4 linked regions of the Homo sapiens genome follow. The protein of the gene in region 2 purifies or fractionates together with the protein of the main gene of each other region. This does not show direct contact. Each region holds a gene or a part of one and is shown on either strand. Other genes may lie near its edges.

What was found.
Region 1: the proteins of SSRP1 (region 2) and TRIM33 purify together in Homo sapiens (affinity purification with mass spectrometry; 3 studies listed by BioGRID and IntAct, with this or other methods). This does not show direct contact.
Region 3: the proteins of SSRP1 (region 2) and MMS22L purify together in Homo sapiens (affinity purification with mass spectrometry; 4 studies listed by BioGRID and IntAct, with this or other methods). This does not show direct contact.
Region 4: the proteins of SSRP1 (region 2) and TONSL purify together in Homo sapiens (affinity purification with mass spectrometry; 6 studies listed by BioGRID and IntAct, with this or other methods). This does not show direct contact.

Annotation. Positions count from the first base shown.
Region 1 is NC_000001.11:114,423,804-114,431,622, forward strand, and holds part of TRIM33 (E3 ubiquitin-protein ligase TRIM33), read right to left. Parts: intron 7,110-7,819; coding exon 6,995-7,109; intron 4,092-6,994; coding exon 3,945-4,091; intron 3,492-3,944; coding exon 3,374-3,491; intron 1,921-3,373; coding exon 1,646-1,920; intron 953-1,645; coding exon 788-952; coding exon of another isoform or gene 768-787; intron 1-767. UniProt on the Homo sapiens protein: Acts as an E3 ubiquitin-protein ligase. Promotes SMAD4 ubiquitination, nuclear exclusion and degradation via the ubiquitin proteasome pathway. According to PubMed:16751102, does not promote a decrease in the level of endogenous SMAD4.
Region 2 is NC_000011.10:57,325,564-57,333,382, forward strand, and holds the end of SSRP1 (FACT complex subunit SSRP1), read right to left. Parts: intron 7,587-7,819; coding exon 7,396-7,586; intron 7,293-7,395; coding exon 7,062-7,292; intron 6,924-7,061; coding exon 6,820-6,923; intron 6,718-6,819; coding exon 6,589-6,717; intron 6,327-6,588; coding exon 6,105-6,326; intron 5,365-6,104; coding exon 5,292-5,364; intron 5,179-5,291; coding exon of another isoform or gene 5,047-5,178; exon of another isoform or gene 4,867-5,046; coding exon 4,728-4,866; intron 4,576-4,727; coding exon 4,530-4,575; intron 3,399-4,529; exon of another isoform or gene 3,296-3,398; intron 2,864-3,295; coding exon 2,734-2,863; intron 2,320-2,733; coding exon 2,149-2,319; intron 1,952-2,148; coding exon 1,863-1,951; intron 1,327-1,862; coding exon 1,140-1,326; intron 916-1,139; coding exon 844-915; 3' UTR 425-843; downstream 1-424. UniProt on the Homo sapiens protein: Component of the FACT complex, a general chromatin factor that acts to reorganize nucleosomes. The FACT complex is involved in multiple processes that require DNA as a template such as mRNA elongation, DNA replication and DNA repair.
Region 3 is NC_000006.12:97,272,687-97,280,505, forward strand, and holds part of MMS22L (protein MMS22-like), read right to left. Parts: intron 6,213-7,819; coding exon 6,163-6,212; intron 377-6,162; coding exon 289-376; intron 196-288; coding exon 18-195; intron 1-17. UniProt on the Homo sapiens protein: Component of the MMS22L-TONSL complex, a complex that promotes homologous recombination-mediated repair of double-strand breaks (DSBs) at stalled or collapsed replication forks.
Region 4 is NC_000008.11:144,434,292-144,442,110, forward strand, and holds part of TONSL (tonsoku-like protein), read right to left. Parts: coding exon 7,746-7,819; intron 6,821-7,745; coding exon 6,675-6,820; intron 6,616-6,674; coding exon of another isoform or gene 6,580-6,615; coding exon 6,427-6,579; intron 6,186-6,426; coding exon 6,060-6,185; intron 5,920-6,059; coding exon 5,730-5,919; intron 5,603-5,729; exon of another isoform or gene 5,185-5,602; intron 4,492-5,184; exon of another isoform or gene 4,445-4,491; coding exon 4,362-4,444; intron 4,270-4,361; coding exon 4,180-4,269; intron 4,043-4,179; exon of another isoform or gene 3,937-4,042; intron 3,456-3,936; exon of another isoform or gene 3,408-3,455; intron 2,809-3,407; coding exon 2,736-2,808; intron 2,705-2,735; exon of another isoform or gene 2,630-2,704; coding exon 2,466-2,629; exon of another isoform or gene 2,460-2,465; intron 2,391-2,459; coding exon 2,267-2,390; intron 2,128-2,266; coding exon 1,367-2,127; coding exon of another isoform or gene 1,363-1,366; intron 1,329-1,362; exon of another isoform or gene 1,260-1,328; coding exon 1,183-1,259; intron 1,150-1,182; exon of another isoform or gene 880-1,149; coding exon 726-879; intron 599-725; coding exon 520-598; and 1 more. UniProt on the Homo sapiens protein: Component of the MMS22L-TONSL complex, a complex that promotes homologous recombination-mediated repair of double-strand breaks (DSBs) at stalled or collapsed replication forks.

The sequences.
Region 1 (7,819 bases), on a different chromosome or scaffold from region 2:
GACCTGAGAGACTTAATACAAATTTAAATATTACTGAGTACTCCCCACCTAGAAATTCTGATTCAGTGGTTATGGCTAGGAATCCATTCTGACAAGGTTGCCCACTCCACCAAAGCTGACTGGTGATTCTGATGGTCTTTAAAACATGTTTTGAGAAACATCATTCTAAGAGTTAAAAAATAAACTCTATTATAACTAGAAATCCTATGAAAAAGTGGCCTCACTGTATACTCATATCTCCCATATAAACATAACCAGGCAAAGATTATAAAACATGTCTCTAAACACACTTATTAAAGCGTATCTACATCCTAAAAGGAAGAATATTTGAGTAGAGAAAAGGTAAAAAAAAATAATAATAATAATACATATAGTTAGCTCTGTTACTCTCAAAGCCCTTTTTATATATTAGGATCAAAAAGCCACATTAAAAGAGCAGAGCAGCATTTTCAGGAAACTAATGTTCTTGCTATTTTATCATTGCTTTTTGTGATTGTGGGTAAAATCACCAGCTCATTAGATTTTTTTCACTTCTGCAAATTGAATGGGTTAACTACATCAGGGTTTCTTAACCCACAGTATATGATGCACTTAAAGCATTTTTTAAAAGCTCTTAAAATTAAATACAAAATCTCATGTGTATGTTTATTTTTCTGGGACAAGAGGATATACAGCATTAATCAAATTCTCAAACACATCAATGACCTGCTCCCAAAAAGTGATTAAGAAAATGACGTCTTTTAATTTTAAAATTGTAGGATTCTTACAAATGTAACTCTAGGCATACTTGTCTTTGGAGGTGTGGCTGCATCATGGAATATTGAGGGCCGCTGTGCCTGGGTATCCCTGGTATTCTGGCAGCATTCTGAGCCAGTCTCATCTGATGGGCTTGAAAAGCTCCACAGTTCATGTTGCCTCTTTGCATTGTTTGCACACTGATCAATCGAGGAGGCTACAAAAAGTAGAAATTGCAATTTATGTAATAATTTTAAAATAAATTTATCTCAATTATAAAATGTAATCATAAAAATAATTCAGTCAAGATAAAAGGGTATAAAGTAAAAAGTATAAATAATTCTTATCGCTAGCCCCAATCCCCAGAGGACTGGTAATGACTAGTTTGTATATCACTCCCTAATTTCCCTTGTCTCTCTCTCTCTCTCTTACCTGTTCCCCCTCTTTTTCTCTATATGTGTGTTTAAAGCGTATCAACATTAACGTATCCCATCCTGGAGTAATAGTTTTGATTGGGATGGCAGTGGAGAGAGCAAAAGACACACAGGTATAGGAAAGATCTGAACAAATGCCTAAGGAACATATCAGATCCTAGGCAGAAACAGTCTGGTCCTTTGGTCCACAAAATTATACGTGGAAAACAAAAAAGATTTGATGTGAAAGGATGAGAACTTACATCCTTTCAGAGTATTAGTGAATTAATTTTGTTTCCCAAGACAATTTACTTACTGCCTTTCTTCACAGCTCCCTTACATCACCATCATAACCATAGCAAATATTTAAACTCTGACTTTTGAACTCTGCTCAGTCTTGCTAGTAACTTTGAAATGTGTAACTTAATTATATAGGAAAAAGTGTAGTGTTGAGGGCTTCATAATTTCTATCAATAATGTAGTAACACGATACTTACCTGTTGTTGTAACATCTGAGGGGCTGCTTGTCTAGGATGCTGTTGTGTTGTTGTTGTTGTAGTTGGTACAGGTGCTGGTGGTTGCTGCATCCTCATCTGTTGCAACTGCTGATGTTTCTGTGCATATACTTGTTGTTGCATGTGCTGGAGTCGAAGCTGTGCTAAGTTAATCTGTCCAGGGGTTTTACTAATGTGGTTTGTCCCTGGAGGAACTTGCCCAACTACAACATTAGGAGTATAACCAGGAGCTGGTTTACTCTCTATTACTAGATTACCTGAAAAATTTAAAAAATGAGAATTTGCATATAATCAACTAAATCATCTACTTTGTTGAGTAATCACCATGTTTTCCTCTTTCCTCTGACAACTATCAGCACCTCAAAGCTCCAACAGTACAGCAGGGAATGGAGTCAGTTTAAAGATGATGATGATGATCAGAAACTTAATACATTCCAAAGCTGAATAAATGACGTTTGGTTATTCAGAAAAATATACTCTCTGTCCTTATTCTTTTTTACTTAGACATACAGAAAATTAAGACAGTAAAAGAGATTATCTATTAGAAGAGGCCTATCTAATCAATCTAAATCAATTCTCCCATGACAAGACTTACTCAAGGATACTCAAGATTGCCAATACTGATTCCATCTGCCTTTGAATTGCCAAAATATGCAAGGCAGAGCATTACAATGTCACAAAATCGTCTTCTGTGGAAATACTGAATGCTTTAAACAACTTATATCCTTAGACGTGATGGTTTTCCTTGCTTTTTATGGAGCCATTGCCTTCTAGGGATAGAAGCCAAATTTTAGGAAGATGTGATTTAAGGCACAGGTTGACAGGCTTTCCCTGTAATGGGCTATAGAGTAAATATTTCATGCTTGGCAGGCCACATAAGATCTGTCTCACAGTCCTTGGTTTTTGTTTGCTTTTACAACCAGTTGAAAATGTAAAAACCATTCTTAGCTACTACGTCACACAAAAACAGCTGGCTGATGTCAGAACTAAGGCTATAGCTAAATTTGAATATAATTTTTTTTTATTATATGCAAAGATTACTTTTTTTTTTTTTTTAAAAAAAAAGGGCAACCAGCCTCTGCTTTTACAATTCCCACTGTTTAGGACTTAACTGTTCTGAAAGTGAGTTTACTCAATCTGTAAATAGCTCTCTAATTGCTAGGAAGTTTGTGTGCATGTGTTTTAACTGAGCTCTCTGTAACTTTCATCTATGGTCTTTAGGTCCATACTACGCTGTAACAAAAGGAAAATCCATTTCTCTTCCATGTGAAAAGAGCTACTCTTATCTTTCAAACATTCCTCAGGACCTAACTACTGGACACATTAGCATCCTAAAAGTCTGTTGCTAATGCACAATTTGGCTTAATTAAACAACTAAAAATCTATGAAATTATTCCAGACAATGAATCATTTGCTAAGATTTCTATATGAAACAGTCAATATAAATTTAAAAGATGGAGGGTCGGGGGACTAGAAACAGCACACATTAAAAAACAATATACAGAGTAGACGCTCAACTTTCTTAAGATGTAATAACAGCCACACAAAACCACAGCTAAAGTGAGTTTCCAATGAATAACAACATATTTTTACATAAAATGTAAAACATTAGTTTTATAAAGTTAAAAATTTTATCTAAATTTGCTTTAAGTATTTTCTCCTTCTAATTCAGTGTTCCAAGTTATATTCATAAAACTCATTATTTCTCACCTAAATTGACTACATTCTTTGCCCAGAAGGTGGGATCACAATGGAAACGTATTGCTCCATTAGCAGCAGGGACAGGATCACACCGTGCTTTCAAAATATGACGCAACTGGAAAGTAATCTTAAAGGGAAAAAAATCCACATTAGTCTCAAAATTAAATATCAATTGGGAAATCATAAGATAAAGACATTAAGAAAAAAAAGCACATATATTCCCACAGTGTCAGCCTCAGATTAGGCAGCATCAACATTTAAATTAGCAATCAAATCAAATATACATACTTGAATTTCTGCCATTTTGGGTAATAAAGTGCATTAAGATACTAGGTATCTTCAAAAGAGTACATACTATATAATTCCACTTATATGAAATTCTAAAAAATGACAGAAATCAGATTAGTGGCTGCCTAGTGGAATGAGGAAACTTTGGGGGGTGGTGGAAGTTTTCTGTATCTTGATGTGGTGGTGGTTACATTTGCCAAAATTAAAATGTATACTTTAAACAGGTGCAATTCACTGAATATATATCTTAATAAAGTCCATTAAAGAAAAATAAAAACAGTATGTGTCTCACCAGTCGCTTGCTGTATAGTAGTGCTGTGCTGCTGCCACTTGCAATTGCCCAATTTGTGAAGTTCATAACATGCTTCACCTGCCGGGAAAGGCCTGTGATGTCATTCTGCTGCTGTAGTAACTTCATCTGTCTTTCCTTTGTAACATTCTGAAACAGAACAAGAGCTTCGCTGTAGAATTCCATATGAAAAAAAATCAACCCCACATTTCTAATGCAAATGGGCACAATACCTATACTTCCTTTAAAAATGGGCTAAGTGAATAAGCTCCATGATTATTTAGCAAGCCTATCATCAGAGGAAAAGCCACTAACAAAAGTGGGACTAAAAGTCAGTTCTCTAAGCTAAAAAGGATATTCCACATATAGAAATGAATGTTAGTTAATGTCACTTTTCTATCAACATGTCTGTTAAAAATAGTGTCTTCCTATTAGATTAATCTAATATATGGTATTTATAGCATAAGGAGCTAACTTTAGAAATAAATTTATGTAATCTTAATATACTTTAAAGGCCAAAAAAATTTTGTGTCACCAGTGCCACCTCCTGGTATGGCATGAGAATGAAGTTAAAATCTCTCTTAAATATATAAGACAAAATGAAAAAGATAACTTCCAGAGTTCTAAGAGTAGAATTAGGGAAACTTTTGATATCACAGAAGTTCACAGAGAACAAAGAAGTAAGGACTGACCAAACTGCAAAAACCAATTTCAGAGAAACACTGCAAAGGAAAAATAAACTGCTTTATGGGAACTAAAATCACCCCAGGAGGGATGGGTAATGTCCTACATACTTTTGACATTCAGCATGCTGAACAACTCATCTACTACTTTCTTAAGAACTTTCTCCCAAAAATGACTCAAGTTGGTTTTTCTGGACAATATTTTTCCTAAGGAAAGAAGCTGTTCATTTTATAATGTAAATCAATGGATAAGAGTATTCAACTGAGAGAAGTATGGTTTACTACATTTCTTTTATAAAGCTTAGAAAAACGTTTCTTCTACAAAGTATAAGAACATATTACACTAGAAAACATCTATTTTAAATTTATCATCATGTTAGTAGTATGTGGCGTATTTACCATTAGGTATTTGTATACACTTTAGCCTTAAGAGGCTTTTTTTTTTTTAACAGAGTCTCACTCTGTCCCCCAGGCTGGAGTGCAGTGGTGCAATCCTGGTTCACTGCAAACTCCACTTCCCAGGCTCAAGGGATCTTAAGAAGCATCTTTTAATTCAGAAACTCTTGAAATGGTTTTACAAATACTATTTTAGACGTACAGCTCAAATGTATTACAGTAAGTTTAAGTGTATCAAAAATAGTTACTAAGTGCTCTCTATTCACATGGGTCCTTTTGGGGGGAAAAACCTATTAGGGTTAAATGCAACAGACTGGTGTACAGTAGGAAAAGGGACCCACAACTTTAACAATCTGCACAAGAGTACTTTTTTTTTTTTTTTGAGACGGAGTCTCGCTCTGTCGCCCAGGCTGGAGTGCGGAGGCGCAATCTTGCCTCACCGCAACCTCCACCTCCCGGGTTCAAGCAATTCTCCTGCCTCAGCCTCCTGAGTAGCTGGGATTACAGGCATACACCACCACGCCTGGCTAATTTTTGTTTTTTTTTTTTAGTAGAGATGGGGTTTCACCATGTTGGCCAAGCTGGTCTCGAACTCCTGACCTTGTGATCCACCCACCTCAGCCTCCCAAAGTGCTGGGATTACAGGCGTGAGCCACCGCACCCGGCCAAGAGTACTTTTAATCTCACAAATTGTGTTTCACTGGAAAGATGTATTCCATTCAGAGATAACATTCTACTGACATCATTTCATTTTTATGTAATTATTCACCTAATATTTTTAAAGGATTCTATGAAGAGATGGGACAGAAAAAAAAAAAAACTATTGACAATTTGAGGTTAATGGAAATAATCAAATAAATCATTTCATTATTACTATTCAATGGTGCAGAAAAAATAATCCCCATATCATCTGAACCTAGTTAAGAGCATGAAATCTTCAATCAGAAAATATTTCTCTTTCCAAAATTTCAACTTTCCAGAGCATGAAATTTTCAATCAGGAAACATTTCTCTTTCTGAAACTTCAATTTCCCAGAAAACTCCTATTTGAAATTTGCTAAAAATAAATCAAATCGGCAGTGGAGACTTTGATTAAAAATTTAGATTTCATGAACTGACTAGATTTTCATCTAGAAACTTACACCTACAAATAAACTTCAAAATATGCAATATAAATACCTAATATCACAAAATTTTCACTAAGTTTAAGGTTTATAAATTTCAAAAAGAGCAGCATTTTCTGCAAAACTATGGAAATATTTTTAAAATAAGGTAAAATACACAAATGACTCAAGCAGAAGCCCAACATGAATCTATATGGTAAAATTAAATTGAGGCCCCATCTTAAGGGGGTGGGGAAGAAATGTGGTGGGACTACTTTGCCTTTACGTACATCACATTTTAGTAACATTTCTTTTTTCTTTTTCTGTTTTTCATTTTGGAGACAGGGTCTCACTCTGTTGCCCAGGCTGGAGTGCAGGACACAATCACAGCTCATTGCAGCCTTGACCTCCCGGGCTCAGTCGATCCTCCCACCTCAGTTTCCTGAGTAGCTGTGACTACTGGTGCATGCCACCACCCTGGCTAATTTTTGTATTTTTTGTAGAGGCAGGTTTCGCCATGTTGCCTGGGCTGGGCTGGATCCCGGGGCTCAAGCGATCTGTCTGCCTTGGGCTCCCAAAGTGTTGGGATTACAGGTGTGAGTCACCATACCCAGTCTTAGTAACAATTATTTGATTTCTAAGAGGACATCACTATTTCCTAAGGTATACAGCTAAAGTCAGTGTTATTAAATTGGGCCGCAAAGTAACTAACTAGAAAAGGTCTCTTCCAAAAGTAAATTTTAAAAACCTTATTTTACGTTTTCCTTTATTTCCATACCCCCCAATCCATCTAAAATAGTTTTCAATAAACATTAAAAACAGCTAAAGAGCAAGAGAAGCAGTTTTTGTTTTATTTTGGCTTTGAACCATACCTCTAGCTGTTGTAAGAGAGATTTTCCTTTCTTATTAATTTCATTGATAAGGGTGAAAATGGCCACTTTAATTTCCTGTTCTACTCGTTTGTTAGTCTCATTTACTTCTTTTATCCTGAATAAGAGAAATGCATCATTAGGTTATCAACTTATCCTAGGTCTCTGAATCATCAACTGTTACAGAAATTCATCCAACTGGGCACTTAACCGAGTAATTAAAATGAAAACTTTGTCAAAATGTACAACTCATGTTTCAGCAGACCTGACCAATTTGGTCCAAACAAGTTATGTACATAGACAAATAATGAAACTAATATTTAGTAATTTTAAATTATGCTCATAAAGGACAGTTTATTAAGCTGGATGGCAATCTACTTAAGTAACTATGACATGAATGTGATGCACAAACACCAGTGACTTCTGGATAGTGTCAAATGTGGCACATTGGTTCTGTTTAACCTTGACGTTTTCCAAGAACAATGTGCAAAAGGACAATGTCACAAGCAATAATTATCTTTTGAAAGGATAATAGTTAAACATAGAAGCATTTATTTTCATTTATAACTTAGCCACTTCAAACATGGGTTCTGATACACTCCCTTCAAAATTACTCTTAATATGGTTTCCCTTTGTATACAGTAAAGGGCATAAAACATTTTCAATCCATTTTTAAGAATAGCTTTAGATGTTTTATAAGTAGGTGTAAGCACTCAAAGCAGTTATGGAAGTTTTAGGTGCAAATATGAAGTGGCTGATACTTTGGTATTTACAAAACAGGAAGTGGATAATCCCACCACTATAAATATATAAAATGTCAACGACCAA
Region 2 (7,819 bases):
GCAACCACCACCACTCTACGCACACGCTCATCCTCCCCGACTCTCCAGGCTCAGGTTTCCACTCCCCCGGCTGCGGGAAGGACAGTCAATCCTGATTTCATTATCGAAAGCCTTGGAAGACCCTTGACTCATAGGTAAGGATGCAGCCAAGAGCTGCCTCCCCCTAGCTTGGTTGGCTAATGGAGTGTAACTGGGAGAAACTTCCTAATCAGATCAGCTCTCATTTCTAGACTCTCAGGTGGCCCATCCGGGCAGAGGCGGGTGAAAACCAATGCTCGTCCAGCCGGGAACAGAACAGGATGTACCTCGAGACTTGCTTCCCGGCTGGCCAGGAAGGCCCTGCCCAGTCTGACCAGAGCAGTAAACACCACCAATAAAAGTGGGAGCAACACACCAAGGCTACAAAGAAAGCATGAGGACATGGTTTCCAAAGTCAGTTCCCTTTATTAAATCATTTTCACAGACCAGAAATACAAAATGAAAGTAGAAATAGGCCCCAGGTAGGAGCTACAGGCCTGGCCTCACATGACCCCTGCTCCAGCAACTTGAACAGGACAAGCAGCAGCTACATCCTTAAGGTCGGGAAAGTAAGATGAGGATTTGGATCCTGCATTGCCCTGCCTCCCACCCTATCTCTCCCCAAATTATAAACAGCCATCCTTGGGAAGCAGCAGAGTTAAGACGTCTCCCCACTGCCCTAGTGACATACACACCAACAGGAGAGCATGTTCAGATGGCACAGAATCCAGGGACTGCATTTCATGAGGAGAAACTGGTACCAAAATATGGGTGGGGAGTCGGGGGGTGTGAGAAGGCAAGCGCAAAGAGAACCTTCCTCCGTTTCTACTCATCGGATCCTGACGCTGAGTCCTCTGAGCTGGGGGGAGTACTGGCTAGTTCTTCTTCTTCAGAGTCCTGAAAACCAAAGGTGTCTTAAGGGAAAAGCTGGAGTCCTGGGTGCCCCACCCACTCTTCAGTGAAGGGCCCGCAATTCCCTACCGCCCCCAACTACAGCACCCCCCTTCAGAACCTCAGAATTCCACCATCCACTCCAACTCATTACTCTTACAGACCAACCCCACACAGACACACATGCCCCTCACCCTGCCCAGCCCACAGGCCCCACATTCCTGCCGCACCTCGCTCCTCCTCCTCTTCTTTTTGCTCTTGTTCTCTCCCGAAGAGCTCTCATCACTAGACACAAACTCTTTGCTCTTGAAGCTCTCGCTTAGCTGCCTTGAGGACGACTTGGATGATGAGCCCCTAGAGGGCGTGGATTTCTTTTCCATCTTTACCTTTACTTTCTTCTTCTTCTTTGACTTGTCCCTGTATTGGCAAGAGGGAAGAGGAGCTGGGCCTTCAGGTCCCCTGTCACCATGACCAAACCTCTCCCAGCTTTAACAAGGCCTTTCCCAATCCCAGCCACACAGCCCATTTCACTCTGAACGTAAATAGCTGCGTCAGCCTGGAGGGCACCAAGGGAGAGTATCATGAGTACACCAGAAGAATCAGAGGGCACAGCCTAAAGCAGCCCAATGTGCAAAACCTACTTGATATTTCTTGCTTTATCTTTTAGAGTTCATGCAAACTGTGCACTGCACTCCATAATAGTATTTTTTTCGTTCCCCCATACCTTCAAATAAAATGGTCCAGGAAAAGAGGCCATATTTCCCCAGTGACTTGAATGCCCTATTGTGTCACCCATACTTGGGCAATGGCCTACCCAGGTTTGAGAAGCACTACCCTACTGCAGTCAGAAGCATCTCTGCTGTCTTTAACTTTCCAATGCTCAACTTCGGCCTGTTAAAAAAAAAAAAGTCTGCCACAAAAATCAGTGACTGGGCCATGTTCTCGACACTCACCTCTTAGAAGACTCGCCTCGGCCCCCTTCATATTCTTTCATGGCTTTTTCATAGTCCCTCCTGGCATCCTCAGCCTTGCGATCCCACTCCTGTCTCACACACAGAAAAAAACAGTTAAGAATAAGACCTCTCCCATCTCCCCTCTCCCCTGATGCAGGCAAAATCGATACAGAAAGTCCCACCAATGGCTCATACTGCTCCCCTATCAGTCATGAGACTCGCCACCCCAAGACAGCACCTCTCGCCAGCCCATGAGAGGCATCACCCCTCCTCTGCTGCTACTCACCTCTTTCTTCTCTTTGGACATTCCCTTCCAGATCTCGCCTGCCTTCTTGGAAAGATCCGTGATGCTGATGCCAGGATGGTCTGACTTGATCTTCTCTCGGCTGGCATTGAGCCACAGCATGTATGCAGACATGGGCCTCTTGGGGGCATTGGGGTCTTTGCCCTTCTTCACCTACATAAGAACCCAAATGCCTTCAGCTATTTCCCACAGAACCCATACATTTTCCCAAATAAATTATTTAGATCACTTAACTTGGAGAAAAAGTGGAGGACTAAATAGCATCAGGCGAGACGAGAGCTCCCTAAGGGCAAGGATAGTATCTCCTTCCCCTCTGCAATTCAGTGCCTAGCTTACCAGGACAGAAGCCCATCTCCTAATTCAGACCTTCCAGAAGCTTATTAATCTCAGGGCTAGTGAGAAAAATTTCCAAGAAGATAACCCTCAAGGCTATAATCACTGGCTATAAAAAACAGCCCCAAGGAAGAACAGGTCCTACTGGTGGTGGACAGGAGAAGGTAAAGAGAATGCCTCCCACGCCCCCCACCCACTGCACCACACACAGGCCCTCCCATCTACAGTCTGCACCTCCACAGGCTTCTTGCGGCTCTTGCGGTCCTTGGCCATCTTGGCCTTTTTGAGCTGTTTCCGCTTCTTCTCATCCCGGTCACTGTCACCCTCATTACTGGAGGAGCTGGCAGAGGCGTTGCTGTCAAACCTGCCAGAGAACAAGCCAGGCTTAGACTTGAGGAGGGAAGACAGGACCCCACGGCCTCAGGACAGGAGGAAGACAAATCCAAAGATACCCACCCAAAAGGGGCAAGGGAGGAAGACCAGAGGACAGTATCCACCACCAATCCCCAACACTGCTTTCTCCCATTCACTGTGGTGGCTTCAGCCATGCCCTCTCCAGACCCAGCCACAGCAATTGGTTACTTGATTGGAATTAATGAATGAAAAACAAATCAATGAGCTTCAGCGGATCTCCCTGGGCATGGCCAAACCAGGTCCTAGTCCATCCCCAGGACACCACTGGCAGAAACACTGCCTCATTCATGCCTGGAACATGGCCCAAATCCACTTCACCACTTCCCTCGGAGTAATCACCTTAATCTACCCTATAGTCTTTTTTGTCTTCTTTTTTTTTCCATGTCAGATGGGTAATGTGTCAACATCGTAACAAGGCTGGAGGGTGGCACATTTCACACACGCACGTAACACCCAACCATTATGTTTATGAACTACAAAAGGATTGGCCCCTACAGTCTTCTGATGAAAAGATAATCAGTTACTACAAAAAGAGGAAAACCAACTTCAGTCCAACCCAGTGCCTACCCCTGTAATTGACAGTCTTGTCTGATATATGTGAAACTCCTCAAACAATGCAACTACCTTACACCTGTATGCTGCTGGACAGTCTTCAAGGCACTTTCACAAGTATTTGCTCATTAAACCTTCATAAACCTTCATAAGCATGTGGCAGGCTGAACTAGAGGACTCCTGTTGGGTGTTTTTTTTGCTGCCCGACATTCTTTTACAATCCTTCTGGATTAAGAGAGCAGAGTCCCAATTTTCTGTTGGGAACCACCTTGCCCCCACTCAGGAAGGGCTTACCCCAACCACAGGCTCTAAGGGTGGGCACTTGGCCTATTTCTGGCCCATCAGACCCCAGCCCATTCTAATAACTCAGGCTAGAAAGGGGCAGGTAACCACTGTGTTCACTATGCTGTTCACCAAAAGAGGCACTTCTGGTGTTGTTTTAAACCAGTAGGATTAAGCCTGCCCTGAGCTTCTGAGAGTCACTGGGCACCCCATGGGGTAAACCTATTTTTAATTAAGGAAATCGGAAGAAATAGATTTGAGCGCCTGAATCCAGTAGTGTCTGAAGCCAATTAAATCCCCAGACTCCGCAGTAATATGAACTTATGAAATTCCCTTTTATATGTTCCCTTTTAAAGTGAGAGTGAATCACATTTCTGACACTGCTAACAAAAAGTCTTAACCAATTTAGCAGGGGTACTACTGCATTTCTACTGATGAGGAAATTGAGATTCAATGACTTACTCGACAACCCCCAGCAAGTAAGTGGCAAGCACCAGCTCATTCCCATTCTCTCCTCATCCAACTACGAACCAGCCCCAACTGGCACATTCAGGGCGGTATGGCCATAGATCCCACTATACTTTTCCGACTTCAAAATATGTCTTGCACTTACAAAGCCCTTGACAATTTCCAAAACATTTTCGTATATCACCTCATTGGAGGTCACTCTCCCATTCTGGGTCAGTAGCTAATGCTGGGACCTGAGAAATGTCCAGAAATCTTCTGGTCCCTTAAGCTTATGGGTCACCATCTTATCCCCACAAGGTACCACCAAAACTCACTCCTCTGCCACATCTTCCTCCTCTTCACCTGGGTTGAATGACTCATCTGAAAAAGGGCACAGGATGCATCAGCTTCTGCCCCAATGGAAATCCCCCCACCTCACCCAGGCACCCAGCTCTGGCCCAAGGGTGAGTCCAGCCCGGGCCACAGCGAGGAGCGTCTGACCATCCTCGTGCTCAGCACGGAGGCTAACCCACCGGTTTCTTCTCCTGAGTCATCGCTGCTGTCATTGGCATTCTCCTCCCGGATCTTGCCTTCCTCCTTCATCCTCTCCAAGTAGGCATCATGCTGGTCCTCATCAGAGTCAGCATATTCATCGTAGCTTGGGTTCATGCCCTAGCCAGGGAAGAGTTCACGGTGGGGCCAACTCACCCTCGAGCCAGAATCCCTGCACACTCAAAAGCACACCCCCATGCCTGTCAAGTCAGAGCAGCAGCTCCCAGAAGACCTGGGGCTGGATTGTCCACACACAGCCAACGTGCAGGGCCTATGCCCAAGTACTTCCTGCCAACTGGGTTAGTCCAAGCCCCAAGCCCCTCCCTCTCCCAGCCCCACTGGGGGCTCCTGAGGGGCTGCATAGACTGGTCTAAGGTCATGCAGAGGAAACCTGCACCAGGAGGGGGAAAGGGTCACACGCACCTCTTTTTTCTATAAGGGTAAGAAGAGAAGAAAGAGTGAAAAAGAAGCCGGAAAAAATCTCCACCCCTTTCTCCCCTATAGAAAGACCAGGAGAGGGTCTCATCCTCCCCACACAGAAGTACCTCTTTCAATCCTCGGTTTTTGATGTTGAGCTTTTTCGCGTTGACAAAATCAAACAGTTTCCCGTACTCCTCCCTGTGAGGGGACATGCACCATGTTACCAGAGAGGTAGTGCCAACACAGGGGCACACTAAACAATGTTCTGATTCCATGAGCTGGGGTAGACTGTGGAGCCTGGAGCTCTTGACTATGCTACCCAACCCAACAGCTTAGAAACCCCCAGAGGACAGCAGTAAGGCAGAGCCAGAGCCAGACATTAGTCCTGAAAGAACTGCATGGCTTTGAAGAACTCTGGGAAAGGAAAGGCAGGGAGGGGTGCGCATCTGTTTACAAAATAAGCTCAGAGGGGAGTAAGTGTGGGGCAGGGGACGTGGTCATCTTTTTTCATACTTCACAAGGTTGATATGAGGATTACACGTGAAGATGCTTATAAAACGTTTAGTCCACAGTGAGCACTCAATAAGCATTAGCCGCTATGTTCTCAGGCACAAAGCTCATTCCAGGAAAGAAAGAGATAGCATTTCCATCATGGTGGGGAGTGGAGGAGAAAAAAGACCAGTAGCGAAGACATATAGCTTTCAGAATACGGAAAAAGTTTTTTTTGTTTTGTTTTGTTTTGTTTTTTTAATGACCAGAAAGAAAGCAATGGAGAGGTTTCTAAAGTCTGAGCACTCCAGGGAAAAGGACCAAATCCTGATGTAGCAAAAGAAAAATTCTGCTCTAGGGTTGGAGAGTGCCCCAGGCCACGCCAGCCTTCCTAGACAAAGCTGGCTCGGGACCAGGATGCCCAGGAAGTGACAGGTGGAGGTTCTCACCTCTCAATGCTGCTGAAGGTATACTGAGTGCCCTGCTTGGTCTCAATTTCAAAGTCAAAGGAACGAGTAGTAGTGGTACCACGAGCAAAGTTGACAAAGGAGATCTCATCGAAGCGGATGTGCACAGGTGGCTTGTGGACGTAGATGAAGCCCCGCTCCAGCGGGTAGAGCAGTCCTGAGCTTGCCTTGTAGGAACAGGTAATGCACTGGGCCCCTGAGTGCCTGACAGAGGGTGCAGGGAGCCTGGTTAGTGCCAACCTCAGCAGAGGCAAAGGGCGTATCTAGCAGCAGCGACACGAGTGCTCATGTCCTCGACTAAGTAAACCTCACTGAGCTGTTCTGACAGAGGCGCTGGCACCTATTGTGACACAAGGTCCCATCCAGGCCTCTAGGAGGCCGCATTCCCATCTCAGGAAGGGTTTACCAAGGAGACACGGCATTTCCCATACCCAGGCAGGGCAGGATCCCAGGCCCACACTCTCACCCTTGGAAGTTGCCTGGCACTGTGATCTTGCGGTTTACCAGTGCTTTCATGACCCGGCTGACCATCTCATAGAGGGATCCTGACATGTTCTTGGTGAGCCGACCCTCAAAGCGCTTCTCCACTTCTTCCCTACAAAGAAAGCAAGGTGAGGTCACAACACTACTGCCTTCTAATGGCACACCTGTCTCCTGCCTGGACAGTGGTAGGAAACGAGTCCAGGGAGACACTCACTCGTTCATGTTCAGAGTCAACGAAATGTCCTCGTCCTTGGAGAAGAGGAGGATCAGGAAGTGGTAGCGAGTTTGGCCTTGCTTGATTGGGGGATCCAGGCTGATCTAGTAAGGAAGAGTACTAATTGACACTCTACAACAACTTGCAATTAACCAACGTAGAATTCTGCACACCAGTGAGATCCATCTACTTAACACTTAGGCAAAAACCAGGATTATCCGGCCATAGGGGTTTCTGCTTACCACAAAGAACATCTGGCGCTGGTCCTTGTGGGGTAACAAAAACAGACGCAGTACTGTGGTGTAGGGGATCTTGTAGTCAAAGGTCTTGCCATGCAGGTGCAGAAAGGTGGGGTAGATCCGAATGTCATAACGACCACGAGGAGTCAGACACTGCAGCTCCCGGAAGATGCAGATGGCATCTCCCGTGGCCTGGATTACATCCGCCTTTGACAACACATTCTGGGCAAAGGCCTGCAAAAGCACATATTGGTAGCCAAGCAGCAGGCCCTGCTCCCAGGCCAGCCAATGCCTGCTCAGCACCATCTGCTGCCAAGGCAACCAGGGGAAGCCTCACCTCAACAGGGTCCACACCATCCTCCTGGGTGGGTGGGACGTAGAAGCGCACCTCCATGAGAGACACCTCTGCGTCATCGTTTTGGTGGAATTCCAGTGTCACCTCATTCTTGCCTGTGGTGCACTGGGACACATTGCTGAGGGGTATCTCAAAGACTGGCTGGTCACCAATGTCAAAGGAAAGCAGCTGCCCTGTGAGGAAAGGGCTTATCCAGCCACAAGCTCCTCCCCTTAAGTCTGCATAAGCAATATTCCCACCAAACTGAGTTCCACAGAGACAGGATACTGCGGTTAGTCTGTTTAGACTATAACCCCAACCCCAGGCAGTATACTGTAGGTACTCAATAAACACATGATGAACATGCAAATAGATAGGAAACCAGAGACAGTGGCAGAGGGAAAAGAGCAAAACAAGTAAAAGGCTG
Region 3 (7,819 bases), on a different chromosome or scaffold from region 2:
AATGAAACAAGTCAAACCTTAATCTGGTTTTGATTTACAAATGCTCCTATATTAACACTGGGAAGTTCAGATAGGTGTCCAATATACAAGAGTAATCCATGAAGCTCATCAATCAACACTGAGGGAAGCTGAGCCTCCAAAGCCTCATAAGGATGGACAGGAACATGACTCTCAGCATTCTGTACTTTCAGATACCTAAAAAATAATTAGATAAAATAAACAACTAGAGTCTGTGTGAATACACACAGAAATTCATGCAGTGATCAAAATACTCATCTGATATCCTACCTGAAGATGAAAACTTTAACATAATGGAGAAATAGTACACACTGCTGCCTAATATTGTCTGCTTTGCAGTGTAGAGTTGATACCTTCCCTGAAACCAAAATAGACAATGTTAATCATAGTTCAAATAATTATCATGGGCAGTGACAAAAAATGTTGTAAGCCATACCGGCAGCAATTCTCTATCTTGTAACATTTTATATTAAACATTCTCTTATGGTTCTTGCTCCCCGCTACTCCTCAAAAAATGCTCTTATTAAAGTCACCAATCACACCCACATTGCCCAATCTAATAGACAGTGCCTACCCTCAAGTAACTTGCTCCCACAGTAGCACTAGCTACACCTGGCTTCATGGTGCCAGATAATGAGTCTTCTTTCTTCCTCATGTATCCTTTGTCCTACCTCTTTTATTGGCTCCTCCTCCTCAATTCTATTATTAATATGGTCTCTTCAAGACTCAGTCCTGAATCCTCTACTCTCTGTATATCTCTTCCCATATGTATGATCTCATCAGTTCCTTTATTAATAAATGATAATGACTCTAAAAGGGTTATCTACAACCCCATCTCTCCTTTGCACTCCAGACCTTCCGTGTTAAACTGCCTAACACCTATACTTGGATTGCTCAGACAGTGCAAATAATACCTCCTTTGATTTCTTTCAAAACCTGTTGATGCTGTCCTTGTTTTCAGCCTTTCATAAAATGGTGCCACCAGTAGCCTATATGGTTCTTGATTCTTGCATTTCCTTTAACCTCGTATCTAATCCTTCAGAGTCCTATTAAGTTAATAACCAAATATACATTGAAACTATCCATTTTCCCTATAAACACTTAAACCACCACAATAGCACTCTTCACAGGTCTTTCCATGCTCTCTTTTGTCCCCCTATACACTAAGTAAAAAATCTGCTTAAAATGTATATCAATTTATCTTGTTCCCAAGTCAAAACTCTTGAAAGAATACCTATTATATTTAGAATAAAATCAAAACTCCTAATAATAATTTATAAAGCTCTGAACGACCTTTTAATAGTTGCTGCCTTTCTCCCAACCTCACTCCATGTCAGCTTTCCCTCACTTACTTCAGCATTTATATCAGCAATAATTATCTAGGTAGTTACTATGGGCAAAACACTAATAATCATTATATAGAGAATGAGTAAGAGACAATCTAGTAAACAAAAGCAAAGAAAACATGATGAGAATTATAGGCTACAAATTTACAGCCATACTAAACATGAAACTAAAGTTTAATTCAAATGAACAATCATGCCACTACTGTGGCAGAATAGAAGCATAAGTGTGAAGCAGTTGTGTAAATACCTCCATATTAAACTGCATTTTTATGGCTTTATTTCACCCATAAAAAGTCATATCATCCCAATTTTCACAATTCTCGGCCCATTAAGGCAGTACTCTCTTAAAAATAACTGCAGTGAACATCTGCATCCAGGCAAGACGGAGTAAAATAATCAGATTGCTCCATCTCCCACTGTAAAGCTGAAAACCATAAAAATTACGTCAAGCAAGTTTTCAGGCTCTGGACACAAGACAATATAAGATTGCTCTCCCAGAGAGAAACTGAGCCCTACAACTGTACCAGCTCCCCACCTAGAGACAGTTTCCAGGCTTCAATATGAGGAAGAGAACCCAAATACAGCCCAACTCACTCTTTGAGATGAGGAGATATGGGATCCAAGTTTAGGGAAGTCCAAATTTGCAGGGCAAAAGTACCCAAGAAGAAAGAAGCTATACAAAATAGAGTTCTGGAAGGGTACAGAAGTGTCCCTCTGAGATTTAAGTATCGATCTGTTCAAGCATGAAAAATATTACCCAACGCCAGGGAAAAACACCAGAAAACAATTCCCTATAAAGAGTACACAAGCCAGGGAATAGTTCAAGTTCTCACCAGCAAGCATGAAAAAAAATCTCATAATAGACTACGCACGAGAAAGAATTCTCAAAGCCTTACTAGACTAATTTACTAGGCTAAGTTAACATTAAAGGCTGCTTTTTAAAAGTCCTACCAAAATTTAAAACAAGCCTCAAGAAGAACCAGTGGATTACAACTACACAATAGCGACCCATAACAAAATTCAACATCTAGTTTAAGGAATAAAAATCCAGAAAGCAACAATGTGAAACCCACAATGTTCATCTAACAATAAAACATTACTATATATTCAAAGAAGCAGAAAAATATATCACAGAATCAGGAGAAAAACTAATCAATACAAATAGTTTCAGAAATGACAGTGATAAAAGAATTATTGGCCGGGCATGGTGGCTCACGCCTGTAATCCCAGCACTTTGGGAGGCTGAGGCAGGCGAATCACGAGGTCAGGAGATCAAGATCATCCTGGCCAACATGATGAAACCCTGTCTCTACTAAAAATACAAAAATTAGCTAGGCATGGTGGCGTGTGCCTGTAATCCCAGCTACTCGGGAGGCTGAGGCAGGAAAATTGCTTGAACCAGGGAGTCAGAGGTTGCAGTAAGCCGAGATGGCGCCACTGCACTCCAGCCTGGTGACAGAGCAAGATGCCCTCTCAAAAAGAAGAATTATTAATAGCAGCAACAACAGTGGTTATAATGTATACTCCATATATTCAAGATGGATGAAAACAAGCATGAAGTCAGAAACAGAAGACATTTTAAAAAATCCATAAGGAATGTCTAGAGAAAAAAAACACACACACAATAGCTGAGACAGGGTAACACCAACAATTATATTTAAGAATAGCTCTTGGCTGAGTGTGGTGGGTGATACCTATAATGCTAGCACTTTAGGAGGCCAAGGCGGGAGGATCACTTGAGCCCAGAAGTTTGAGACCAGTCTTGGCAACATAGTGAGACCTTATCTCTACAAAAAATTAATTTTAGTCAGGCATGATGGCGTGAGCCTGTAGTCTCAGCTACTTGGGAAGCTGAGATGGGAGGATCTGCTTGAGCCCAGGAGGTCAAGGCTGAAGTGAGTCATGATCGCACCACTGCACTCCAGCCTGGGCGATGGAGTGAGACCCTGTCTTGAGACAGAGACAAAGAGACGGAAAGAGAGAAAAAAAACAGCTGTCAGCAAAACATGTCATTAAGTATGTTATTCTGCCTCAACTGGAAATTAACCCTGGAAGCATAATGGCTAGAACAAGAACTATACTCATCTGGCAGTAAGTAACTACATAGGGACTTCTTGGCACAGCTGAGGTCCAAGGGTAGCTACACAAGTTAATGAACACAGCTACATGGCAGGGACATGTTCATGTATGGATAATATTTAACACCACTAACTTGTCCAAAATCTGTCATTAAAAGCTTTTTTAAGCAACAAAAACAGCCAAAATGTCAGTGTAACAAACAACCATCTTAACAAATAGTCCACTGCAGTGGTTTCAGGTTAATAAGTGTAATAATAATAATCTATCATAATAAATGCCTTCCATGAACCCAATTTACTTAAGTTATTCTACGTAAAGGTAAAGGTATTTTGGTTCTTTCCACTATAATCTTTTAGTGGCTCCACAGGAGTTCCAAAATAAAAATCATACTCTCTGTCATGGTTTACAAAGCCAACTCTGCTTTTATCCCTTCCAAATTCATCACTCACACACATTCTGATCCAACCATATGTAATTAATATTTAATCCATGCTCTCTAAACTTTTATGTTTTTACACACATCACGTCTTTGTTTATACAGTTTTATTTTTTTCTGCCTGGAATTCTTCCTGTCCGAAAAACTTTTCCCAAATCTTTTGCCTAGCTAATTTCTTCCCATCTGTGAAGACCCAGATCTGGCATCATTTAGTGAGGAGCTCACAGATAGACAAAGCCCTTGGCTTCCACAGCAGCTTGTACATTCCTTTATCACCGTACCTTTTCATTTACCAAGCTGATGTATGCTTGCATGTCTAGCTGTCTACACAACTGCAAACTCATCAGCAGCATATTTTTCCTCTTTGATTCGTCAGTACCTTGCAAAGTACCTGGCATGAACCAGGGACCCATCAGATGATAATGAAACAATAATACTTAACATTTACAAATCACGTAACATATTAAGAAAACAAAAAATATAAAACAGCCTAAAAGCTGATAGCTAACAGCTAGGCCATGGTATCCCCTACTGAAAATAAACAATTTTCATAAAACATAAAAAATAGTCCAGGCACGGTGGCTCACGCCTGTAATCCCAGCGCTTTGGGAGGCCGAGGTGGGTGGATCACAAGGTCAGGAGTTCGACACCAGCCTGACCAACATGGTGAAACCCCATCTCCACCAAAAATACAAAAATTATCCAGGTGTGGTGGTGTGCGCCTGTAATCCCAGCTACTCAGGAGGCTGAGGCAGGAGAATTGCTTGAACCCAGGGGGCTGGAGGTTGCAGTGGGCCAAAATCATGCCACTGCACTCCAGCCTGGGTGACAGAGCGAGACTCCATCTCAAAAAATAATAATAATAATAAATAATAATGATACAGGGCCACTCCATTACAGTGAAACAAGACAAAAACAAAACCTCTGTAACCATGTCTGAATACAAAACATGGCACTATGCAATCACACACACTCCAAACAAAACACACACACACACACAAAATGAACAAAAAAACACATCCTCCCTCTTCCAGTGACCAGGACAATACTTTTTTACTAATTAGGATGCTCCCTTTGTTTGTCTCACCTCCTAGATAAAAATTAAAATACCCACTCTTCAAATTGCCCCTGCTAATTAACAGCATCCAATCCAGAATATAGCCTTATCCCCCTTAAGCCCTACGGAAAATCACCAGAATGAGCCCCAAACATATCACAAGTCCCTTCCTACTCCCTCTTACTGACAAGCCCCAGCTTTTCCTTGTAATGTGTATTTTTCCTTTTTTCATAATCTAATAAACCTCTGTTTGACCAAAAGTGTTCCAGGTAGTCTTTGGTTGCTAGGCATCAATAATGGTAGACACTGTGTTAAGCACTTAACACGCTCAACAAAGTTAGAACTATTACTTGACGTAAGACCCACAATTAGCTAGGGTTGGAAGCCAGGGTGACAAGGCCATGATTCTAAACACTGCACTGCACCAAAATTACTAGAAAGGAGAAGCAGCCAGACTGCACTAAAACACACTGCCCTTCAATTCCCTTTATTACCTTAGCTATACATGCGGTGGCTCATGCCTGTAATCCTAGCACTTCAGGAGGCCAAGGCAGGGGATCACTTGAGGTCAGGAGTTTGCGATCAGCCTGGCCAAAATGGCAAAATCCCATCTCTACTAAAAATATAAAAATTAGCTGGGGGTGGTGGCAGGTGCCTATAATCCCAGCTACTCGGGAGGCTGAGGCAGGAGAATCACTTGAACCCGGGGGGCAGAGGTTACAGTGAGCTGAGATGGCACCTTTGCACTCCAGCCTGGACAAAAGAGCAGAACTCCCTATCAAAAAAAAAAAAAGCAAAAAAAAACCAACTATACCAATCTAAACAAAAGAAAAAAAAATCAGTAATCCATCACACACCAAAAGCAAACACAAAAGCAGAAAGCAGAAAAGAAAATCAAGAAGACAGCATGAGGTCTGGCACTGTTTAGTTCTCATTTAAGTTCTCTATCCCACTCCCTACCTCCAAAACAAGTACTAATTCTCTTCAGAGAATTTTAGCTTAAGTCGGTTTTACCTTTAAAATCTACAGATTTGGGAAAATACTATATATCTCAGCTACAACAAAATTTAAAAAGTCATACTTTTCTGAACACTAAATTCGTAAACTTCTGGCCTAATGCTTCCTCTGTATTATCATGATATGCCAATTATACCATCATGGACCCATGTGCAACTCACTATAATGAAGCACCATTCCCTTTTGCATTAAACACACCTTAAACTTACCAAAATCACAACTGGACTGTAACAAGGTTTCCAAGTTGTACAGTTGTTGCCTAATTTTAAAAATGTAAGGTGAGAGTTAATTTTAGAACACTTTAAAGCATGTAACAATTACGTGGACAATGTTTCCAAATTACACAGCTTCAATACCTCTTTAATTTGGGGATGATGATTAATACCTTGTGAATGTTAATTAAAGGATCAGCTTCAGGTAATGAAAACTTTAAGAAAAGATAAAATACATCTTTGCCTGACCTTCCAAAATTATCTATTAAAGACTGCATATATCTCAAAAATTATTTCAAATACCATAGCCTTCACCATCAGCAAGATACTGTTTATATCTTTAAGTTTACGGCCGGGTGTGGTGGCTCTTGCCTGTAATCCCAGCACTTTGGGAGGCCGAGGCGGGCGGATTACGAGGTCAGGAGATCGTGACCATCCTGGCAAACATGGTGAAACCCCGTCTCTACTAAAAATACGAAAAAATTAGCCCGGCATGGTGGCGGACGCCTGTAGTCCCAGCTACTCGGGAGGCTGAGGCAGGAGAATGGTGTGAACCCAGGAGCTGGAGCTTGCAGTAAGCAGAGATCGCACCACTGCACTCCAGCCTGGGCAACAGAGCAAGACTTCGTCTCAAAAAAAAAAGAAGTTTAAGATGGGGTGCAGTGGCTCCCGCCTGTAATCCTAGCACTTTGGGAGGCCAAGGCAGGTGGAACACCTGAGGTCAGGAATTCAAGACCAGCCTGGCCAGCATGGTGAGACCCCATCTCTACTAAAAATACACAAAAATTAGCCGGGCGTGGTGGGGGGACCCTGTAATCCGAGCTACTCGGGAAGCTGAGGCAAAGAAGCGCTTAAACTCGGGAGGCGGAAGTTGCAGTGAGCCAAGATCACCCCACTGCACTCCAGCCAGGGTGACAGTGTGAGACACCCTCTCAAAAAAAAAAAAAAAGAAGTTTAAGATACATAAAACATTCTAGGTTAACAGTTACATAATAAAATTTTAAACTGTATCATACAGTTATACAATAGAAGTTCAAAAAAGGAATAATGTAGACTAAAGTATCAGGGAAAGCTGTTATTTATCATGTTCCATCTTAATTCCTGATAGCAATTTCTTGCTATTCTTCCTAGTTGATTTCAAAGTCTTTAAAAATTAACCCATATTTATAACCTATGTCCTAGATAAAGACTCGCTCATTCTGTAATCTTCAGGATTACAGAGGATCACTCACTGAGCCTGTTCTATCAATAAAACGTATGACATGGCGTAGATACAGTTTAAGTCTCTTCAAAAGGTTTCATGGGATGATGGTGAGAGAATTCCTTCCACCTCTCCATTTTCCTTTAAATGTATCACATATAGATTTTTACTGTGTTTTGGAATAATTAGCTTTCAATAACTGACTCCTGTTTAAAATTACCTAAAATCTGAATATGAACTGTGTCTTAAATGATAATGAAGAACTTTAATTTTTATTAATTGAGATGAGTTTTTTTTTTGAGACAGAGTCTCGCTCTGTCACCCAGGCTGGAGTACAGTGGGCAATCTCAAATCACTGCAACCTCCGCCTCCTGGGTTCAAGCAGTTCTCCTGCCTCAGCCTCCTGAGTAGCTGGGATTACAGACGCATGCCATCACGCCTGGCTAATTTTTG
Region 4 (7,819 bases), on a different chromosome or scaffold from region 2:
TGTGATGTCACCAGGGTAAGGCCGGCCCTTTCTGCCCTCTGAATCCCAGAGGGCAAACCAGGCAGCCCCTTTTCAACAGCCCCAGGGGTCACCCACCAGACTTGCTGTAGAGCCCACTCGCACATGCCTGTGGGTCTAGCACTGTGAGGCCCTGGGGGCCGGGGTGGGTCTGCAGCACCCTGAGCTCCACCAGTCACTGCCAGATTCCACACCCCCCGGGACAAGCTTTCTGGGAAGCTTCCCCAGCAGCTCCCAGCCCATGCCAGGCCCTCCTCCTTGGGTTTGACTTTCCAGGCTTTCGGCTGCTTTTTGCCATCTCCCTGTCAGCAGATCATGGGGGCTGAGGGCTGTCCTCTCCCTTCCACCCACACATCCAAGTGCAGGACACAGCACCCACCAGGCTGGGGGAGGTGCACCCCAAAACACCCGAGGCCCAGGAATGAACCGGGCTGGTGGAGCCTGTGTGCCCAACCCCCTTGTACGACCTCACCCAGAAACTGCAGCTCTCCTGGCCCTCACCTTGCCCCAGGCTCTGGCAGGCCCTGCGGTAGCGGTCAGTCAACGGGGGCAGGTCCCACGAAGTCACCTCAGCCAACACCTGGAAGGCACCGTCATGAGCCACCTGGGGGCTCCCCCGGCTCACCTCATCATTGCTCTGCAGCCATGAGCCACCCGGGGGCTCCCGGTGCCTGAGGCCCTGGCTCCCCCTCCGCTCTGCGGCTCACCTCGTCATTGCTCTGCAGCACATCAGGGATGAGGTCCTGTGGGGCCAGCAGGGCCCCCTCTTTCCGTAGGGTGAGCCTGGGCAGCAGCCCGCAGGTCTGGTAGTAGCGCTGGGCCGCCTGCTCGGCCAGCCAGGCCACAGAGTGGGTGTCACTGCTGCAGGGACAGAGGCGCTGCTGCTGCTGCCTGCACACAGCCGGGGTAATGCCCCAGGGACCCGCCATCCCTGCCCAGGGCCAGAAGCCCCCTCAGCTGCTTCTCCCATTCCCAGGTAGCCGGCCCCTCCTCTCCCTGCAGCCCAGCACACCACCAGCCCCTCTGCTATTCCTGGGGGCCACAGGATCCTCCTGGAACACACCAGGGAGCCCTCGTCACACGCCCCACCCTGACATGCAAACACGAGCACCCTGGCATGGAGCTGCACAGGTGGGCTGCGGGGTAGGGCAGGCGATGCCTCACCTGTGTGGGACAGGGATGAGGAAGAGATGATCCTGAACTTGAACTCGAACCCGGATGGGAGGGGGCGGGGCCGGACCCTGGCAGGTGAAGGCAGCAGGGCTGAGTCAGGAGCCACAGTGGGCTCCACCCTACACCTGCCTGCCCGGAGTGGGGAGAGGGCTCTGCTCCAGGTCTGCATACCCACCAAGGGCTGGCCTGCCGCAGAGCTGTCCCCACTGGGCTCTGAGACCCTGGGGGTGCTGGGGCTCCCTGGAGGTTCTGAAGCCAGGCTGCTGGGCCCTGCGTTAACTGGCGCACTGCAACTCTGCATGCAGGTCAGGCGGACCTGCTTGGCTCGGGCACGGGGCCTGCTCTCCTCACTGTCCGACCCAGAGGTACTACTGGGCCTGCGGTTGTCTCCAGTGCCCCGGGGGCGGGGCCGGCGGCTGCGGGTCAGGGGCATGTCCAGCTCCAGCCAGTCCCCGGCCAGGCACTCCTCCTCCGGGATGAGCGCTGCCTGGGGGGCAAGGGCTTTGCTGTGGCCCCGCGGTGGGCCAGGCCCCAGCCGGCTCTGAGCACTGCCCACACCCCGGATGGCTGCCTGGTAGGCTGCCCGGCTGGTGCTGGCTGTGGCTGCTTCCCTGTTGCTGGCGGGGCCAGGCGTCCAGGCTGCCACCCGTTGTGCTGTGGCCGAGCACCGAGGCCTCTTCTGGGACGGCCGTGCGGGGCCTGCGCTGTCCTCGCCTTCTGAGCTGCTGCTGCTGCTGGCTGGCCCATGCCTGCTCCTCCGAGGCCTGGCCATGGCTGGTGCCGCCTGCCCTGGGGAGACCCTGACATGGGCCTGAGAGGCCTCTGGGAGTCTAGTGCTATTAGAGGGGGGTTCTGGGCAGGGGCTCAAAGGAGGAGAGGTCTCGGGGTCAAACAGAAGGCTGCTTGGGGTGTGGAAGGCCTGGGAGCTGTGGGGATCTGTGGGAGAGAGAATGCGTGTTGAGGCAGGGGCCCGGCACCTCCCGCTCCACCTGTGATGGAGCATCTCCCGAAATCAGGGCCCGGGGACTCTCAGCGTAGGCACAGCAACCCCAGGGACAAGGGACGCCCTGCTTGCCTTGGCCCGAGGCAGCCGCCTGGAGCAGCATCTCCATGGCCCTGGCCTTCTGCCGCGTCTCCAGGTCCAGGTCCCTGCGGTACAGCTTCACCCACTGCTGCAGCGTCTCCAGCGGGCTGAGGCCCTGTGTGGCATCAGTTGAGCAGGGGCACAGCAGCCCCCATAACCTCGCCCTTGCCCTCTGCCCCACCAGGCTCACCTTTCGAGTGCGGAGGGTGACGGACGCCCCCCGTTCAAGCAGCAGCTCAGCCACCTCGAAGTGGCCACAGTTGAGGGCATCGTGGAGGGGGGTGATGCCTTCGCAGCCCTGGCCACCTGGGTCGTCCACTGCGGCCCCGTGGTCCAGCAGGAAGCGGACAATTTCTGCAGACCAGGAGACGTAAGCCCAGCTCCCGATGCCCCGCCAGGACTGACTCTTCGCCCCACGTGTCCACCAAGGTGCGCCAGGCTCCTTCTGTCCCTTGCTCACCTAGATGCCCGTAGTTGCAGGCCTCGTGCAGAGGTGTCCAGCCACAGTAGTCCCGAGGGTTAAGGGGGTGGCCCTGTGACCAAGGACAGGAAGGAGCCTGGCCCTGTGTACCTCACAGCCTGGCCCCAGCCCCGTGAGCTCTGCAGCCTAAGCTGAGCCCAGGGCCTCAGTCTTAGAGCCCAGAGCAAGTCCGTGGCCCTGCCCTCTCCTCCTCCGGCCTAGGTGTCACCAGTGAAGGACATGCTTCCCCCTGAGACAGGTGGACCAGCCACAGCATATCCTCCGCCTCTGTGCCTGCCCGGTCCCCTTGTGGGGAGACAGTGCACCTGGTCGCAGGGGCATGAGGCAGGCGGGGCGGGAAGGTGCCCAGATCTCAGCCCATGGGCTAGCCCCCATCCTGGCCAGGCTGACCAACTTAGCTGTAACACAGATGCATACCACACAGCAGGTACCCCATTTTTTTTTTGAGACCAGCCAGGCTGGTCTCAAGCTCCTGACCTCGTGATCTGCCCACCTTGGCCTCCCAAAGTGCTGGGATTACAGGTATGAACCACCGCGCCCAGCCTGGGCACCCCATTTTTTTGTGTTTTTTTTTGAGACAGAGTCTCGCTCTGTCACCCAGGCTGGAGTGCAGCGGCGCAATCTCATCTCACCGCAACCTCCGCCTCCCAGGTTCAAGCGATTCTCCTGCCTCAGCCTCCCGAGTAGCTGGGACTACAGGTATGTGCCACCATACCCAGCTAATATTTTTGTATTTTTAGTAGAGACAGGGTTTCACCATGTTAGCCAGACTGGTCTCAAACTCCTGACCTCAGGCAATCCGCCCGCCTCAGCCTCCCAAAGTGCTAGGATTATAGACATAAGCCACTGTACCCGGCCTGTGGCTTTTCTTCTGAGACAGGGTCTTGCTCTGTCACACAGGTTGGAGTGCAGTGGCAAGATCATGGCTCACTGCAGCCTCCACCTCCTAGGCTCAAGCAACCCTCCCACCTCAACCTCCAAAGCAGCTGAGACTACAGGCACACGCCATCACATCCACCTAATTTTTAAATTTCTTGGAGACAAGGTCTTGCCAGGGTGCCCAGGCTGGTCTCGAACTCCTGGGCTCATGTGATCTGCCTGCCTTGGCATCCCAAAGTGCTGGGATTACAGGCATAAGCCACCCCGTGCAGCCTCCGCTTTTTAAATTTTTTTGAAACAGGGTCTCACTGTGTTGCCCAGGCTGGAGTGCAGTGGCATGATCGCGACTCCTGCAGCCTCAATCTCCCTCCCAGGATGAAGTGATCCTCCTGCCTCTAGGACCACAGGCAAGTGCCACCATGCTTGCTAAGGGGCCCCATTTTGAAGATGAGGAAGTTGAGAGTTACAGAGATAGGGGATCCGGCACAAACGCACAGCTCCTCCATGCTAGGCAGCCTGTCCCACGTCCCAGAGCGGGGCCCACCTGCCTCACAAGGTCCTGGACGCGGCGCAGCTGGCCCTCGATGCAGGCTCGGTGCAGCAGGGTCTCCCCCATGTCGTTTCGCCGGTTCCACTGTGGGCACAGCCAACCCAGCACAGGGCAGGGGCGTGAGGAGCTGGCAGGGCTGCTGAGCGGGGTGGGTGGGGGCAGGGCACTGTCCTCACCTTGCTCCCCTTCCGCCGGCCCAGGTGGCCCTGAAGCTCCTCGTCCTCCTCCAGCTGCGGGGTCAGGCCATCGGTGTCGTCCTCTGGAACAGAGCCAAGCCCACCCCAGGGGAGTCCGTGGGAGGTGAAGGTTAGCAGCCCCCACCCTGCTGCAAGCTCCCCAAACTCCCAGGTACAAAGGAGCCAGAGACGGGAGGGCTGAGCTCTGAGGCTGCTGGGCTCTGGGGGCTCCTCAGCAATGGTCCCAGCGCTGCCTCCATGTCTCCCTGACCCTGCTGGGACCCTGCTCCTGCCCACCATCCCTCTGCCCACTTGAGACACACCCCTGAGCTTTCTGCCCTAACCCACGCCTGGCCCTCCCACAGAAGGCCTGCCCGAGGCCCCCTCTGTCCATGCGCCAGCCACTCATCCCCACGCCCAGACCGGCTCGTGGGCCAGTCTTCCTCCACCCCACGCCTTATCCACCCCCATCTCCTGAGCTGTGTCGTCAGGCCAGGTCAGCCCTGGAGCCTGGGTATCCTGCACCTTGCAGCCTCCACCCTGCCTAGGCAGCAGACACACCCGCCTCCGTCCCTGCTTCGGGTGACCCCTCATCACCACGCCCTTCACACCCTGCCAGCTGCCTCTGGGTCTTTCCGCAGCTCCTCACTGTGCCCACCAGCTGAGCAGCATTCCCCAAAATTCTAGATCCTGATCCACCTCCCCCCAGCAACCAACCTGGCAAGGCCCCAACTTCCCACAGCTGCCTGGCCACTCAGGGTTCTAACGACGCCCTCGAGTTCAGAGCTGAAGTCACAGCCTTCCCTGGAACACCCCCCAACAGGCCTCATGGACAGGCTCCTGCCACCCACCACTCAGTCAGAAACCAGCCTCCCAGCTACCCGCTAACCCCGCTCTCAGCCCTCTCTCCCTGCACCACGGCCAAGATGGCTTCAGTCCAAGCCCCGCTCCAGCCAGTCCCTCATGCCTGCCCTCCGTGCAGCTGATGTCGCCAGCCTCTGGAGGAAACCCAAGCCTGCTCTGAAGGGTTTCAGGAAGGTGCTCAGCTCTTGCAGAGGCAGCCGGGGCTCTTCAAAGTGCACCGTCTCACCCCTGGCCCCAGATGGCACGTGCCTCTCTAACGGGACCATGCCCCAGCTGACACTCACTCGACTCCCAACCACTGTCTCCTCCAGGAGGCCAAGGCCGCCCCAGGCTCCCTGCGGGTCACCACCTTCTCTGTCCAGTTCCGGGAAAGCACTGGCCGTCCTGCCTGCCTGTGGCTGTTCCTGCTACAGCCCTAAGCAGGCTCCACAGCAGCACAGCACACCCCTCTCCAGCCCGGCCCAGAGCAGGCCCAGGGAAATGCAAGGTGCCGCTGGCCCTCACCGCCCTCTGAGAGCTCCACCTCGCCGGCCTCCAGGGCTTCGCTCTCCGCTGTGGCTGCCGCCTCCTCCGCCTCCTCCTCCTCATCTTCATCTTCAGCTACACTGAGCTCCCGTAGTCTGGTTTCGGTCTCAGGGGCCTCCTGGGGCTGCAGCCTCAGCTGCACGGTATGGAGATGCTGCAAGACCTGCCTCTGAGGAGCAGAGGGATGCTCAGCTCAGGACTGGGGGCTGTGGACGCAGAGAAAGATGGGGATGGGGCACAAGGGGCAGGCAGGCTGCAACGAAGCTGGGCTCACCGGGGAGCCAGTATGGGTGGGATGGGCTCTCGCACCTGCAGCTGGGGACGCTGGGCCTGCTGGGCACAGCTGAGCGCTTTCTGGAAGCACGGGGCCAGCAGCTCGTAGGCATCGCCGGCCTCCTCGCGGGACAGTGCAATGTTCAGCCAGGTCTTGGCCTCCTGGAGCAGGAGGAAGGACAGGGTCGGGGGCTGCCGCTGTCTGCGTCCAACGGGCCCCAGTCAAGCTTCCCCGGCTGCCCAGACGAAATGGGAGCCCGGCCTCCCAGCTGCCGAGGGTGGATGGTCCTAGGAAGGAGCTGCCCGTCCAGTAAGGACACCTGTCCATGGCCACCCTGAGAACGGCAGTCCTGAGGCAGAGACATGGGTGAACCTGCATTCGGGCGGGGAGCAAGGGTTTCACCTCCAGCACGTTGCCGCTGCGCAGCCTCAGTTCCTCCTCATAGTGGCGCACGGCCCCATGGTGGTCCTTCATGTCTCCCAGTGTGGTGGCCAGGGACACGTGGATGATGGCCCGCTCAGCACCCGGTCTGTCCAGCAGCTCAGCAAAACGCAGCTGGGGGCAGTGCCAGTGAGGCCAGGGGCTGCCACCCTGGCCAGGCCTCGTCAACCTCACTGGCCCTTCCCTCCCACCCAGCCGGGGCCACACACCTGCTTCTGGTAAGCCTCAGCTGCCCTGGGAAAGTCTCCTGCCTTGGAGAAGAGGTCCCCTAGCTGCTCACAGATGACCATGGCACCCTGAGGGTCTCTGCCCTCAGCCTCTTCCAGCTGTTGCTGCAGCCGGACCACTGCCAGCACTGCCGGGAAGAGGTTCATGCAGGGGGGCAGCACAGGGGGCCCTGACCCCAGCTCTACCACCTGCAAGCTGTGAGCCCTGTGGTGGCCCCCCCACTCTCTCCACACCTCTGCCTGCCTGTTGGTGTGGGGGTTAATAGCAGGGTCTATCTTGGGGACTGGTCTCAAGGGTCACAAGAACTAACACACTTAAAAACTCGGGGCCAGGTACAGTGGCTCACGCCTGTAATCCTAGGACTTTGGGAGGCCGAGGCGGGCAGATCATGAGGTCAGGAGATCGAGACCATCCTGGCTAACATGGTGAAACCTCGTCTCTACTAAAAATACAAAAAATCAGCCGGGTGTGGTGGCGGGCACCTGTAGTCCCAGCTACTCGGGAGGCTGAGGCAGGAGAATGGCATGAACCCGGGAAGCGAAGCTTGCAGTGAGCCGAGATCATGCCACTGCACTCCAGCCTGGGTGACAGAGCGAGACTCCGTCTCAAGAAAAAAAAACAACACAACATGGATGGTGCCTGGCTCAAAGTAAGGGCTGACGGCTGCCAACCTCCAATGGTGGTCTCTGCCATCAGCACTCCTGGACCACGCGTGCCATCTCCTCTCCCACCCTGGGAGGCTAGGGGTACAACTACTGTCTCCAGTTTGCCAATGAAGATGGTGGCTGCGAAATAAAAGCCCAGCTGGTCTCCTGGCCGCCCTTTCATTGCCCCTGACACACTGTGTTGAGCTCAGAGAAAAAAGGGGGTCTTCTCCTGTCAGGAAGTAGGGGTACCTGCCCCTCTTGCTGAAGCTGCTGCCTCCAAGGACAGGTGCTCAGGCCTCCTCTGTGAGGGAGAGAGCCCTGTACACACCTGGCGGGACTCCACCCCGCCCCCAGGCTCACCCCTGCACACACCTCCCAGGGCCCCATTCGCACCCCCAGGCTCACCATGCTGGAGGTTCTGACAGATGGCTGCCCTCTGCACAGGCTTCTGGGAGCCCAGCCTGTAGGCCTTCTTCAGG